Linked DNA regions of Homo sapiens. The protein of the gene in region 1 interacts with the protein of each later gene in a biochemical or structural test. Each region holds a gene or a part of one and is shown in the gene's direction. Other genes may lie near its edges. The genes, in order: PRM1 and SRPK1.

The links.
Region 2: of the proteins of PRM1 (region 1) and SRPK1, one has a biochemical effect on the other in vitro, tested with the Homo sapiens proteins (one study listed by BioGRID).

Annotation. Positions count from the first base shown.
Region 1 is NC_000016.10:11,280,056-11,285,218, reverse strand, and holds PRM1 (sperm protamine P1), read left to right. Parts: upstream 1-3,888; 5' UTR 3,889-3,980; coding exon 3,981-4,092; intron 4,093-4,183; coding exon 4,184-4,227; 3' UTR 4,228-4,378; downstream 4,379-5,163. UniProt on the Homo sapiens protein: Protamines substitute for histones in the chromatin of sperm during the haploid phase of spermatogenesis. They compact sperm DNA into a highly condensed, stable and inactive complex.
Region 2 is NC_000006.12:35,882,810-35,890,098, reverse strand, and holds part of SRPK1 (SRSF protein kinase 1), read left to right. Parts: intron 1-1,175; coding exon 1,176-1,284; intron 1,285-1,987; coding exon 1,988-2,075; intron 2,076-3,287; coding exon 3,288-3,375; intron 3,376-7,289. UniProt on the Homo sapiens protein: Serine/arginine-rich protein-specific kinase which specifically phosphorylates its substrates at serine residues located in regions rich in arginine/serine dipeptides, known as RS domains and is involved in the phosphorylation of SR splicing factors and the regulation of splicing.

The DNA of each region.
Region 1 (5,163 bases):
GGATTGTCACACTGAACAAAAGAAAGTCTCACTGAACTTCCATCCCACTTGGGGAGACAAATTATAAACACAGTATCAGTGAGTGGCAAGTACTGTATTAGAGTAACAGCCAGCTGCTGTGACAAACCCAAAATTTCAGATGACCACGGAAGGCTTCAAGATCCCAGACGAGGCCAAATGTCCCCACCGCCTAGCTCCAGGGCATCCTCTTCCCAGAACTCAGAACTAATCTCTGTGGCTGGGCAAAGTGGCTCATGCCTGTAACCCCAGCAAGTGATTCTCCTGCCTCAGCCTCCTGAGTAGATGGGATTACAGGCAAGAGCCACCATCCCAGCTAATTTTTGTCTTTTTAGTAGAGACAGGGTAACTCACATGGTCTCAGAGGAACCTGATGAGATGTCGAAGATTGATAGTCACCCTGGACTGGGTGTGGTGGCTCACGCCTGTAATCCTAGCACTTTGGTAGGCTGAGGTGGGTGGATCACTTGAGGTCAAGAGTTTGAGACCAGCCTGGCCAAAATGGTGAAACCCCGTCTCTACTAAAAATACAAAAATTAGCCACGCGTGGTGACATATGCCTATAATCCCAGCTACTCAGGAGGCTGAGGCAGGAGAATCGCTTGAACCTGGGAGGCAGAGGTTGCAGTGAGCCAAGATGGTGTCATTGCACTCCAGCCTGGGCAACAATAGCAAAACTCCATCTAAAAAACAAACAAGCAAACAAAAAAACCAACCAAACAAAAAAAAGTAAGTGTTAGAGGATTGGGGGTAACAATTTTACCTCAATCTAGATCTGAATCAATTAATGAAAAGTTACTGCTAACCTACTATGTGCTACTGTATCCCTCTTAGTGACAATAGACTTTAGCTTCAAATTCATGGTTTCCCCATCTTGCTGGGGTCAGGGGTGGGCTCCATCCCCTTCGGGGAAGAGAGTACTAACTGTCTACCTGGTATCCATCAGCCCCTTCTCCTTTCTAGGAGCCCTGCTTTACCCCAGGGGGCAGTGTGCTTTTGCAGGGAGGCCAGTGATCAGAAGGGGAAGTTGCTGGACAGGGCATCTGGGAAAGCTCTTTATACCATGAGGATTCCATTGAGGCTGCTGTGAGCTATGATTGCGCCACTGCACTCCGGCCTGGGCAAAAGAGCTAGACCTTGTCTCTAAAAAAGAGACAAGAACTCCCTTTGCCACCCCTCCTCTTTCTCCTTCCTGCTTGCACGGTGGATATGGGTGGGACTCCAGCAGGGCCAAGTTTAGCCCTTAGTGTGCCTTTGTTCAAATTTGGAAGAGACTTCTGCTGTGAGCAGGCAAATTAGGAAAAAGACAGCTCCGATGGGCTGAAACATTCCCTGTGAGTACAGGGCCTGGAGTGGCAAGTAGACCACAGGCTGGATTTCAGTCCCTACTCAATCCCTTTGGCAGGGAGCTTGGAGCAGGACACAAACTGCACAACCATCCCTGGCAGCCCTGATCTTGGACTATGAGGCAACTTTGTGGATGGAAAGCACTTGCTGAAGGCAGAGCTAAAAGACAAAAGCCTGGACCCTTGAAAAGGATGGAGCCTCACACCAGCCCTGGCTGACCTCCCTGGGTTTTCTTTTGTTCTTTTTAAAAAAATTTAATAATCTATTTTGAAATAATTTCAAAATTTCAGAAAACTTGCAAGAACCCCTGACAAACACCTCCCCTTTACACAGATTGGCCAATTGTTTTTTCAAAAAAATCTTTTTTATTTTTTTTTTATTTTTGTAGAGATGGGCTCTATGTTGCCGAGGCTGGTCTCGAACTCCTGGGCTCAGCCGATCTTTCCAAAGAGCTGGATTACAGGTGTGAGCCACCGCGCCTGGCATGGCCAGTTGTGAACGTTCTGTCACATCTGTTCAGCTCCCCGCCCCCATCTCTGTCTCCTCTCTCTCCCTTCTTCTCCCTCTTTCTCTATGGGTAAATCCTTGAGAGTAGTTGGCAAACATATGTCATCACCCCTAAATCCTCCAGCATGTGTATCCCCCAAACAGGGACAATCTAATGACCCCCGAAATCACCTCTGACTCCTTAAGAAAAACATAAAACTTCCACCCAACTCACTCATTTCGGTTTTCTGTTTAAGTAGCCAAACCAATTCTAACTGCTCCCCTCTTTACCCTTAAAATCCATGGGGCTGTGGAAAAGACCACACCATGACCAGTGCCCTGCACCATGCTCTGCTCCAATCCCTCACACCTGTTAGCACCTTTTGGCCTCACAGCTTTTCGTGTTTGCAATTGAGCTGAAAGTCAGGTAACATAAAATACATCATTTTAAAGTGTGTAATTCAAGGCCAGGTGTGGTGGCTCATGCCTGTAATCCCAGCACTTTGGGAGGCTGAGGCGGGCAGATCACTTGAGGTCAGGAGTTCGAGACCAGCCTGACCAACAAGGTGAAACCCCATCTCTACTAAAAATACAAAAATTGGCCAGGTGTGGTGGCGGGCGTCTGTAATCCCAGCTACTTGGGAGGCTGAGGCAGGAGAATCGCTTGAAGCAGGAGGCGGAGTTTGCAGTGAGCCAAGATTGCGCCGCTGCACTCCAGCCTGAGCGACAGAGCGACACCCTGTCATTCGTTCATTCAAAATTAAATAAATAAATAAAGTGTGTAATTCAGTGGCATTTAGTACAGTTACAATGTTGTGTAACCACCGCCTCTATCAAGTTCCAAAGCATCAGCCCACAAGGAAGCCCCCCACCCATGGCACAGCTGCTCCCTGCTCCACCCGCCCTGGTCACCCCGATCACTTTCTGTCTCCACGGATCCCCTGCTGCCTGGCCCTGCATAGAAACAGAACTGCACATCCTGCACCGCCTCAGAACAGTTGCAGGAGCAGCTCTTTCTTCCCAGGTGCTCCTCCCTCCTCTTACTATAGCATCCATTTAGGGTTCACTTCGCCAGCACCCCTTTGGGGCTCTCCCTAGAGCCTCACCTGAGGTCAAGTTCTCCCAGCACATATCCTCAGAAACCCGAGGTTTCCATTATCAGCATTTGTCACTATTACAATTATTCTTCAGGGCTGTTTCATTCATGCTTTCTGTAGTTAGATTATAAAGTCTATTAGGGGCAGGGTGTGGTGGCTCATATCTGTAATCCCAGTGCTTTGGGAGGCAGAGGCAGGAGATTTGCTCAAGGTCAGGAGTTTGAGACCAGCCTGGGCAACATAGGGAAAGCCCGTCTCTACAAATAATAATAATGGCCAGGCACGGTGGCTCATGCCTGTAATTCCAGCACTTTGGGAGGCTGAGACGGGCAGATCACTTGAGGTCAGGAGTTCGAGACCAAGCCTGGCCAACATGGCGAAACCCCATCTCTACTAAAAATACAAAAATTAGTTGAGTGTGGTGGTGCATGTCTGTAGTCCCAACTACTCGGGAGGCTGCGGCCAGAGGTTTGCTTGAACCCAGGAGGCAGAGGTTGCAGTGAGCCAAGATTGTGCTACTGCACTCCAGCCTGGGTGACAGAATGAGACTCTGTCTCAAAAAAATAAACAAAATACATAAGTAATTAAAAAAATAAAATAATAATAATAATACTTCTTAACAAGGGCATGTCTGTCTTGTTTATCACTATATACCAGGGCCTAGGCCAAAATCCGGCATGGAACAGGCCAAAATATTAACAGTAATATTTTGTTAATTGAATAACTAGATGATTGCTCCCACGGAGGAGTCATCTTGTATCGCCCCAGCTGTGACATAGGCAGCCCCTACACTCGGGGGCCTGCCCGCCTCTCAAATGCCCATATATGGACATGATGCAGGCCACCTGGCCATGGTTTGTGAGGTCCCAGCCCCTTTGCCCTCACAATGACCAACGGCCCCCTGGCATCTATAACAGGCCGCAGAGCTGGCCCCTGACTCACAGCCCACAGAGTTCCACCTGCTCACAGGTTGGCTGGCTCAGCCAAGGTGGTGCCCTGCTCTGAGCATTCAGGCCAAGCCCATCCTGCACCATGGCCAGGTACAGATGCTGTCGCAGCCAGAGCCGGAGCAGATATTACCGCCAGAGACAAAGAAGTCGCAGACGAAGGAGGCGGAGCTGCCAGACACGGAGGAGAGCCATGAGTAAGTGGGCCCAGCTGAGGGTGGGCTGGGGCTGAGGCTGGGAGCTCTCAGGGCCCAGCCTTCCTCTCACCACTTTTCTTGGTCTCACCAGGGTGCTGCCGCCCCAGGTACAGACCGCGATGTAGAAGACACTAATTGCACAAAATAGCACATCCACCAAACTCCTGCCTGAGAATGTTACCAGACTTCAAGATCCTCTTGCCACATCTTGAAAATGCCACCATCCAATAAAAATCAGGAGCCTGCTAAGGAACAATGCCGCCTGTCAATAAATGTTGAAAAGTCATCCCACTCTTCTCTCCTTGTTCTTGAGAGGGGAGGCTCAGTGGGGAGGAGGGCTCGGGGATGAGCAGAGGGGGAGAGGGCCTGGGCATGCAACGGGAGAAAGATGTCGGTGGGGGGGACATGAAAGACAGTTGTCACGCTGGGTTTTGTTCCAAACTTTTTTTTTTTTTTGAGACAGAGTCTCGCTCCGTCGCCCAGGATGGAGTGCAGTGGCGCGATCTTGGCTCACTGCAAGCTCCGCCTCCCAGGTTCACTCCATTCTCCTGCCTCAGCCTCCCGAGTAGCTGGGACTACAGGTGCCCGCCACCACACCTGGCTAATTTTTTGTATTTTTAGTAGAGACGGGGTTTCACTGTGTTAGCCAGGATGGTCTCGATCTCCTGACCTCATGATTCACCTGCCTCGGCCTCCCAAAGTGCTGGGATTACAGGCATGAGCCACTGCACCTGGCCATTGTTCCAAACTCTTAGTAGTACCAACAAGTCACAACCCAAACCTGCCTCCCTAAGATACAACAAGAACCAGTCTCCCCAAGTCACAACCAGAACCTGCCTCCTAAACCCTCTTAACAGATCCCTACCCAGTGGGGTGCTCTATCCAGGTCTCTCGAGTTTGAGGACCCACTGTGTACATTTCCCCACTCTGCTTGGTGACCTCATCTTGGCAGCTTGAAATGGACCATGGAGTATTTACAGAAATCAGCAAATGCTACAAATCTGGGTTCCCTCCATCCCAGGAACCCCAAAGCCAGTTAAACATTTACCAGCTGGAGCTCAAGATTGAACC
Region 2 (7,289 bases), on another chromosome or scaffold:
CTCGCTCTGTCGCCCAGGCTGGAGTGCAGTTGGCGCGATCTCGGCTCACTGCAAGCTCTGCCTCCCGGGTTCATGCCATTCTCCTGCCTCAGCCTCCCGAGTAGCTGGGACTACAGGCGCCCGCCACCATACCCGGCTAATTTTTTGTATTTTTTTTTTTTTTTAGTAGACACAGGGTTTCACCGTGTTAGCCAGGATGGTCTCGATCTCCTGACCTTGTGATCCGTCTGCCTCAGCCTCCCAAAGTGCTGGGATTACAGGGGTGAGCCACCGCGCCTTGCCGTTTTTTGTTTTTTGTTTGTTTGTTTGTTTTTTGAGACAGAGTCTGGCTCTGTCATCCAGGCTGGAGTGCAGTGGCACAATCTCAGCTCACTGCAACCTCCACCTCCTGGGTTCAAGCGATTCTCCTGCCTCAGCCTCCCGAGTAGCTGGGACTACAGGCATGCACCATGACACTGGCCAATTTTTGTATTTTTAGTAGAGACTGGGTTTTACCATGTTGGCCAGTCTGGTTCTCAAACTCCTGACCTCAGGTGATCCACCCACCTCGGCCTCCCAAAGTGCTGGGATTACACGCGTGAGCCACCATGCCCAGCCTTAATTTTTGTATTTTTAATAGAGACAGGTTTCACTATGTTGGCCAGGCTGGTCTCGAACTCCTGACCTCAAATGATCCGCCCTCCTTGGCCTCCCAAAGTGCTGGGATTACAGGCATGAGCCACCGTGCCTGGGCTGTTTTGTTTTGTTTTTATTTAGAGAAAATCCCGTTTGCTTACTTGCTTTTTTTTTTTTGCTAAATAAACAGAATTATTCTGTCTCCTAAAAAACACCTGAGACTGTAATTGTAAATAGATATATATGTTTAGATAAACCTATTGAATTATTGAGAGACAAGAATATCATGATATACAACCTTTTTATTGTTTTTGGATGAGACTGTTGTAGGCTCAATCTAAATCATTAATCTTACTCACTTTTTTTAATAACATGAATTCAGTAATACTATGTGGCTGATTTGACTATTAAGATTTTCTTCTGTTGAATTGATTGTATAAAAGAAACTTTTTATTGATAAAAGGTATATAGATGTTGAAAAATGTGATGTTAAAAATGCCTTTTCTTACCATTGTTTCTCATCCTGGTTTTTCTGATTGTATTTCCCCTGTTTCTTCCAGGAGGTTATCATCTTGTGAAAATTGGAGATCTATTCAATGGGAGATACCATGTGATCCGAAAGTTAGGCTGGGGACACTTTTCAACAGTATGGTTATCATGGGATATTCAGTAAGTTTTAGTGGTTCTGTAAAAGAATTAGTTAGATGATGTCTAAATGTGTTTGTCTGAGTTTCCACTGCTGATCCAGGCTTCAATCTATCTCTAGCCTGATTCATTTATCAGAATTTTGTTGTTGGCAATAGTCTCTGTATTCTTGGAGAAACCACTTTTCTTTCGTGAAGAATCAGTATTATATATCTCCCTTTCTACTATAGAGACAGGAGTGATTAAATTAATGCTGGTAAAGCTTTTGTCGTTTGATTTTTTTGTGATTTTTATCATTTTCTTTTCACCGAAGTATTTCTTCTGGCTGCCTATGGGAAAATATTACAGCTTTTAACCTTTTAGTTTTTGCCTATATACAGATATATACACAGAACACTTGGAATTTGGTAATATCTTTCCCCTTATTTATCCTCATTTTGCAGTTTTGCTTGTAACTCAGGGAGATATTCAAAAGAAGGATTTTAACTCAGAGAAAATGTTCAACAACTGAGATTATCTGAGAACAGATTTTTTATTCTTCCTATAAATGAAATCTGGCCAGTTAGTGTCATTAACAAGTATAAATGTTCCCATAGAAGTAGCTTGTTTGGGCTACAGGGAAACGTGAAATCAATATTTGTCCTTTTTAACCATCTTATAGCTAAATCTTAGCTTCCTAAAGTAAGGGTAGGCTATGTAGTCTTAATTGCCTGTGTTTGTTTCTTAGGGGGAAGAAATTTGTGGCAATGAAAGTAGTTAAAAGTGCTGAACATTACACTGAAACAGCACTAGATGAAATCCGGTTGCTGAAGTCAGTGAGTATTAGATTATATGTATGAATGTGAAGAATTATAAATAAATCAAGTTTCATTGAATAAAAACACACCAAGTGGAGGCTCTTTAGCATGGATAATTTTCTCTATAAAGTTCTAGTAACCTTAAAGAGGTAAAGGAAGACAACAATATTTACACATACCATGCATGTAGTAGGGAACTGGTGGCAAATGCTATGATGAGAATTCTTCTTACACGCATGAACCAAAAAAAAACCTTTCAAATGAATAAAAATATTCACTGAGCATGTTTTACAGGCCAGGTAGCTACTGTCATAATGTTTTTTTTTCCTACTATGGTTAAAAGGAAAGTTGTGTAAATAAATGTATAGCATCTTTTTTGTTGTTTTTCAAATATGTTATAGAATACATAATATAAAAATACTGTATTTACTGATTCCATTTATACCTGGAAACTGAGATAAATTCTATCAAAAATGTATTTTTAGTTCTGTTTTAAATTAGGAATATGCCAGTGTGGTAGAAGGAACTTAAATTCAGAATTAGAAAACCTGGGTTTAGGTCGCCTTTACCCCGGTATGTCCTCCATGTTACCATTTTTTTCTTTCTGAGTCTCAGATTTTTTATTCATAAAGTGAGAATGTTGCACCAGGAGATTTCTATGGCAGTAGTTTTCTTTTTTATTTTCAACTCCTGGCCTCAAGTGATCTGCCTTAGCCTCCAGAGTAGCTGGGGTTACAGGCACAAGCCACTGCATCTGGCTTAAGACAGTACTTTTCAGAATGTCCGTTTGTGACAAGATAAGGAGCCTTGTACCTACCCAAAAGTAAATCAACATACTGTTTTCTTCATTGAGAAAGTTTTTCCATGAAAAAAAAAATGTCCGCTGAAAAAAACAGTGTGGTTAGTGCTGTAGTTGATTTGCATCCTGCAAAATCTTCTTAGTTCCTCATAGCCTGGTAATCATCAGTTAATTTGGAGGCCACACTTTGATTGATATCAGGGAGCAAAATAGTTTAATTAGAAAAATAGTTCCTGTTGGTTGTATTTCCTCTTATGAATTGACTATTTAAGATTTTTCTCCATTAAAGCTATTGAAATTTTAGTATATTTTAAAAATAGATTTATGTGAGCTCTTTCTTGTAGTTAATTTGCTGTAAGTATTCTTCCCCTACCATCTGGTTTATTTCCATGCTTTACCTTGTGCTAAACACTGTCTCTTCCCCACTACAGGTTCGCAATTCAGACCCTAATGATCCAAATAGAGAAATGGTTGTTCAACTACTAGATGACTTTAAAATATCAGGAGTTAATGGAACACGTATCCTTTTAAAAACCTATTTGAGAATAAATCATCCCAATCCCAAAGAAAGGAACTAGATTTGTTGTGTAGATGGCCTTGGTGTCTTTTCTAAGGCAAACTATAATAAAATTACCTCTTTTATTGTACACTTCTGAACACACATCTGAATTTTGTCTAATTTTGTGTGGTGTGATTTTTCAGAATATTGCTTTAAGCTTCTTGTCCTCTTTTCAGGCAAATTAAAGCGAAATCAAAGGAAACTTTTAGAAAATGCGTTGTATCACTAAGTAAAGAGTCTATGATTTTTGTCAGTTAGCACAGAAACTTTAAGGGAAGTAATTTCTTATGAAAAATACTGAGTAGGCCGGGCACGGTGGCTCAAGCCTGTAATCCCAGCACTTTGGGAGGCCGAGGCAGGTGGATCACCTGAGGTCAGGAGTTCAAGACCCACCTGGCGAACATGGTGAAACTCTGTTTCTACCAAAATACAAAAATTAGCTGGGCATGGTGGCAGGCTCCTGTAATCCCAGCTACTGGAGAGGCTGAGGCTGGAGAATCACTTGAACTGGGGAGGCAGAGGTTGCAGTGAGCCGAGATTGAGCCCACTGCACTCCAGCGTGGGGGACAGAGCCAGACTCTGTCTAAAAAAAAAAAAAAAAGATACTGTCTAAAAGAAAGAGAAAAAGAGAGAAAGAAAAAGAAAGGAAGAAAGAAACTGGATGAACAATTTAAGGTATGATTGTATTTATTATACTAAGCCTCAACTTTGAAGAGGCTGTGAATGTAGTTTATGTTTAGAGTCTAAAAGGGTGTAATTGTTCACATTCTATTATAATGAAAAACTGACTTGTTTTATGTTTTTATCTGGATGTTTTAGAACTGTAGAATTGAAAGGAACCATAGCTGATTTTCTTCACAGGTATCAAAGTGACGTGCGGTGAGCTAATGGAAAGGTTATTGCAACAGCTGTGCTTATAAAGGTCAATCAGATTTTTCAGTAAAAGATGAAGTCGAATCTTACTTAGATTGGATAAATCTAAAATCACCTGTTTATAAGCTGTTTTTAAAATGTATAAAGACATTTCATACATTATTTTACTTTTCATGCATGTTTAGCTTCCTTTAATGCACATTCCTAATTGCTGTTGATCTTTTTGTATTTAAAGGAGACAGGACTACATATGACTAGTTTCATGTAGACTATGGGAAGAGATTTGAACAGAGAAGCAGGAAGGAAGGGATGGGAAAGGAGAGAGAACAGCTGATAATGTGGAAAGACTATTGTTCTAAAGTCAATTCTGAGTCATTTCTTAGAAAAATACAAATCACAGATTACCCAGATGTCTAAGGAAAACTGCTGCAACCATCTTAAAACAGTATCTTGTGCTTATTGTGGTCACTTTGTAGATGGCTCTCTCTCTCTCTCTCTCTCTCTCTCTCTCTGTGTGTGTGTGTGTGTGTGTGTGTGTGTGTGTGTGTGTTCAAAGAATTAAGAATTCTAAACCAAGTAATTTTTTAAAAACCTACACAGGGTGTCGTGATGGCCATATCTGTTTTTTCTATTATTTAATCTTGTAATGTTTGTCATTGTGCCAGATTTCTTTACTAATTTGCAAAAGTTCCAAGTAAAACTATAGAAATACTCTCAAATCTCCCCAGTAATGCTGAGTACCTTTATTTGACCCTAACTAAGCAAAGAAGGCTTTTTAACTATTGAAATATCTTAGTAGGTTTGAATTTCAAGTTCCAAGATATTTTTCTTTTTCTTTTTTGGAGTTCAATGGCATAATCTCGGCTCACTGTAACCTCTGCCTCCTGGGTTCAAGTGATTCTCCTGCCTCAGCCTCCCGAGTAGCTGGGATTACAGGTGGATGCCACCACACCCAGCTAATTTTGTATTTTTAGTAGAGATGGGGTTTCACCATGTTGGCCAGGCTGGTCTCAAACCCCTGACCTCAGGTGATCTGCCCGCCTCGGCCTCCCAAAGTGCTGGGATTACAGGTGTGAGCCACCGTGCCCGGCCCCCAAGATATTTTTCAAACATTGCTAGGTGGTTTCTCTGTAGCTTCTGTCCATTGATTCCCTATTTTATTCTTTTCTCCATTTGTTCTTAGCCATTTTTTCCTGTCTTTCTTCATCCTTATCTCCCAGCTGTCTTTGCTCCTGCATTATTTACTACTGTTAGAGATTGAAAGGATATAACTCAAAACACTATGTTAAGGGTTAGTAATGGCTCATGTCACTCTCCTGCCTCTACCCGTTTTCCCAACATAACATACCCACACAGAGCAGTACATCCACATTCGTGTGTATGTTTGTTCAGGCGTTTTTTTCTCTGGACCACTATCGTTTCTCATATTAAAATATAAAGGGCCCTAAACTAGAAAGTTAGTTCTTACAGAATTCCATATAAACTGGCTCACTCTACTTGCCTGGAGGGTGAGGGGAAAAGAATGATTAAGAAGGAGGACAGTTGGTTTCTCTATATAATGTTGACATTAGCCAGTCATTATTGTCTGCTTATATGACCTCCTATGTCTTTAGGATACTTTTTTTTTCATGCTGTATTCTGTCTGTTTTGCTAGCTCCTCTTATTCATAATGTGCCCTAAATGTGCTTACTCAATAACATAAGCCTTTTATTTTCAGCCTTTTGTTATTTTCTTTACACTGTCTCCCCATTAGATTTTTTTAAAAATATAACCTTGTGGGCCGGGTGCAGTGGCTCACACCTGTAATCTCAGCACTTTGGGAGGCCGAGGTGGGCGGATCACGAGGTCAGGAGACCGAGACCATCTTGGCTAACACGGTGAAACCTCATCTCTACTAAAAATACAAAAAAAAGCTGGGCGTGGTGGCAGGCGCCTGTAGTCCCAGCTACTCAGAAGGCTGAGGCAGGAGAATGGCGTGAACCTGGGAGGAGGAGATTGCAGTGAGCCAAGATAGCGCCAACTGCACTCCAGCCTGGGCGACAGAGCAAGACTCCGCCTCAAAAAAAAAAAAAATAACCTTGTGATTTCAATTACTAGTGCTTCTGATTGCTACTCATTAGCTTTCTTTCACTCAAATTATTTGGCTCTTCCTTTTTGCCACTTGATTATGATGTTCTGTCAAGTTTTTTTTTAAGCTACTATATGTTTGGTCATTTTAATATCACTGCTTACAAATTAAAACATTTTCAAATTGTAATACTTCTCTCAACAAATAAAAATTAAGCAGATGGAAGCTAGAAACATAAGAGAATAGCTTTACAATCCTATTTTATGTTTAGTCTTTTTAAGTAATCTGCATTTTAAATAATCTTGTTTTGATAATTTTTTTTATTTAATTGCTTTTTTATTTTTATTTATTTTGAGACAGAGTTTCGTTCTTGTTGGCCAGGCTGGAGTGCAATGGCGCAATCTCGGCTCACTGCAACCTCCGCCTCCCAGGTTCAAGCGATTCTCCTTCCTCACCCTCCCGAGTAGCTGAGATTACAGATGCACACCACCACGCCCAGCTAGTTTTTGTATTTTTAGCAGAGACGGGGTTTTGCCATGTTGGCGATCCACCTGCCACAGCCTCCCAAAGTGCTGGGATTGAAGGCATGAGCCACCATGCCCAGCCTATTTAATTGCTTGTTTAAAAAAATTTCCTGGCCAGGTGCAGTGGCTCACGCCTATAATCCCAGCACTTTGGGAGGCCAAAGCGGGCGGATCACGAGGTCAGGAGTTCAAGACCAGACTGGCCAACATGGCGAAACCCCATCTCTACTAAAAATACAAAAATTAGCGAGGCGTGGTGGCACGTGCCTGTAATCCCAGCTACTTGGGAGGCTGAGGTAGGAGAATGGTTTGAACCTGGGAGGCGGAGGTTGCAGTGACCTGAGATCATGCCACTGCACTCCAGCCTGGGTGACAGAGCAAGACTCCATCTCGGGTGGGGAAATTTTTT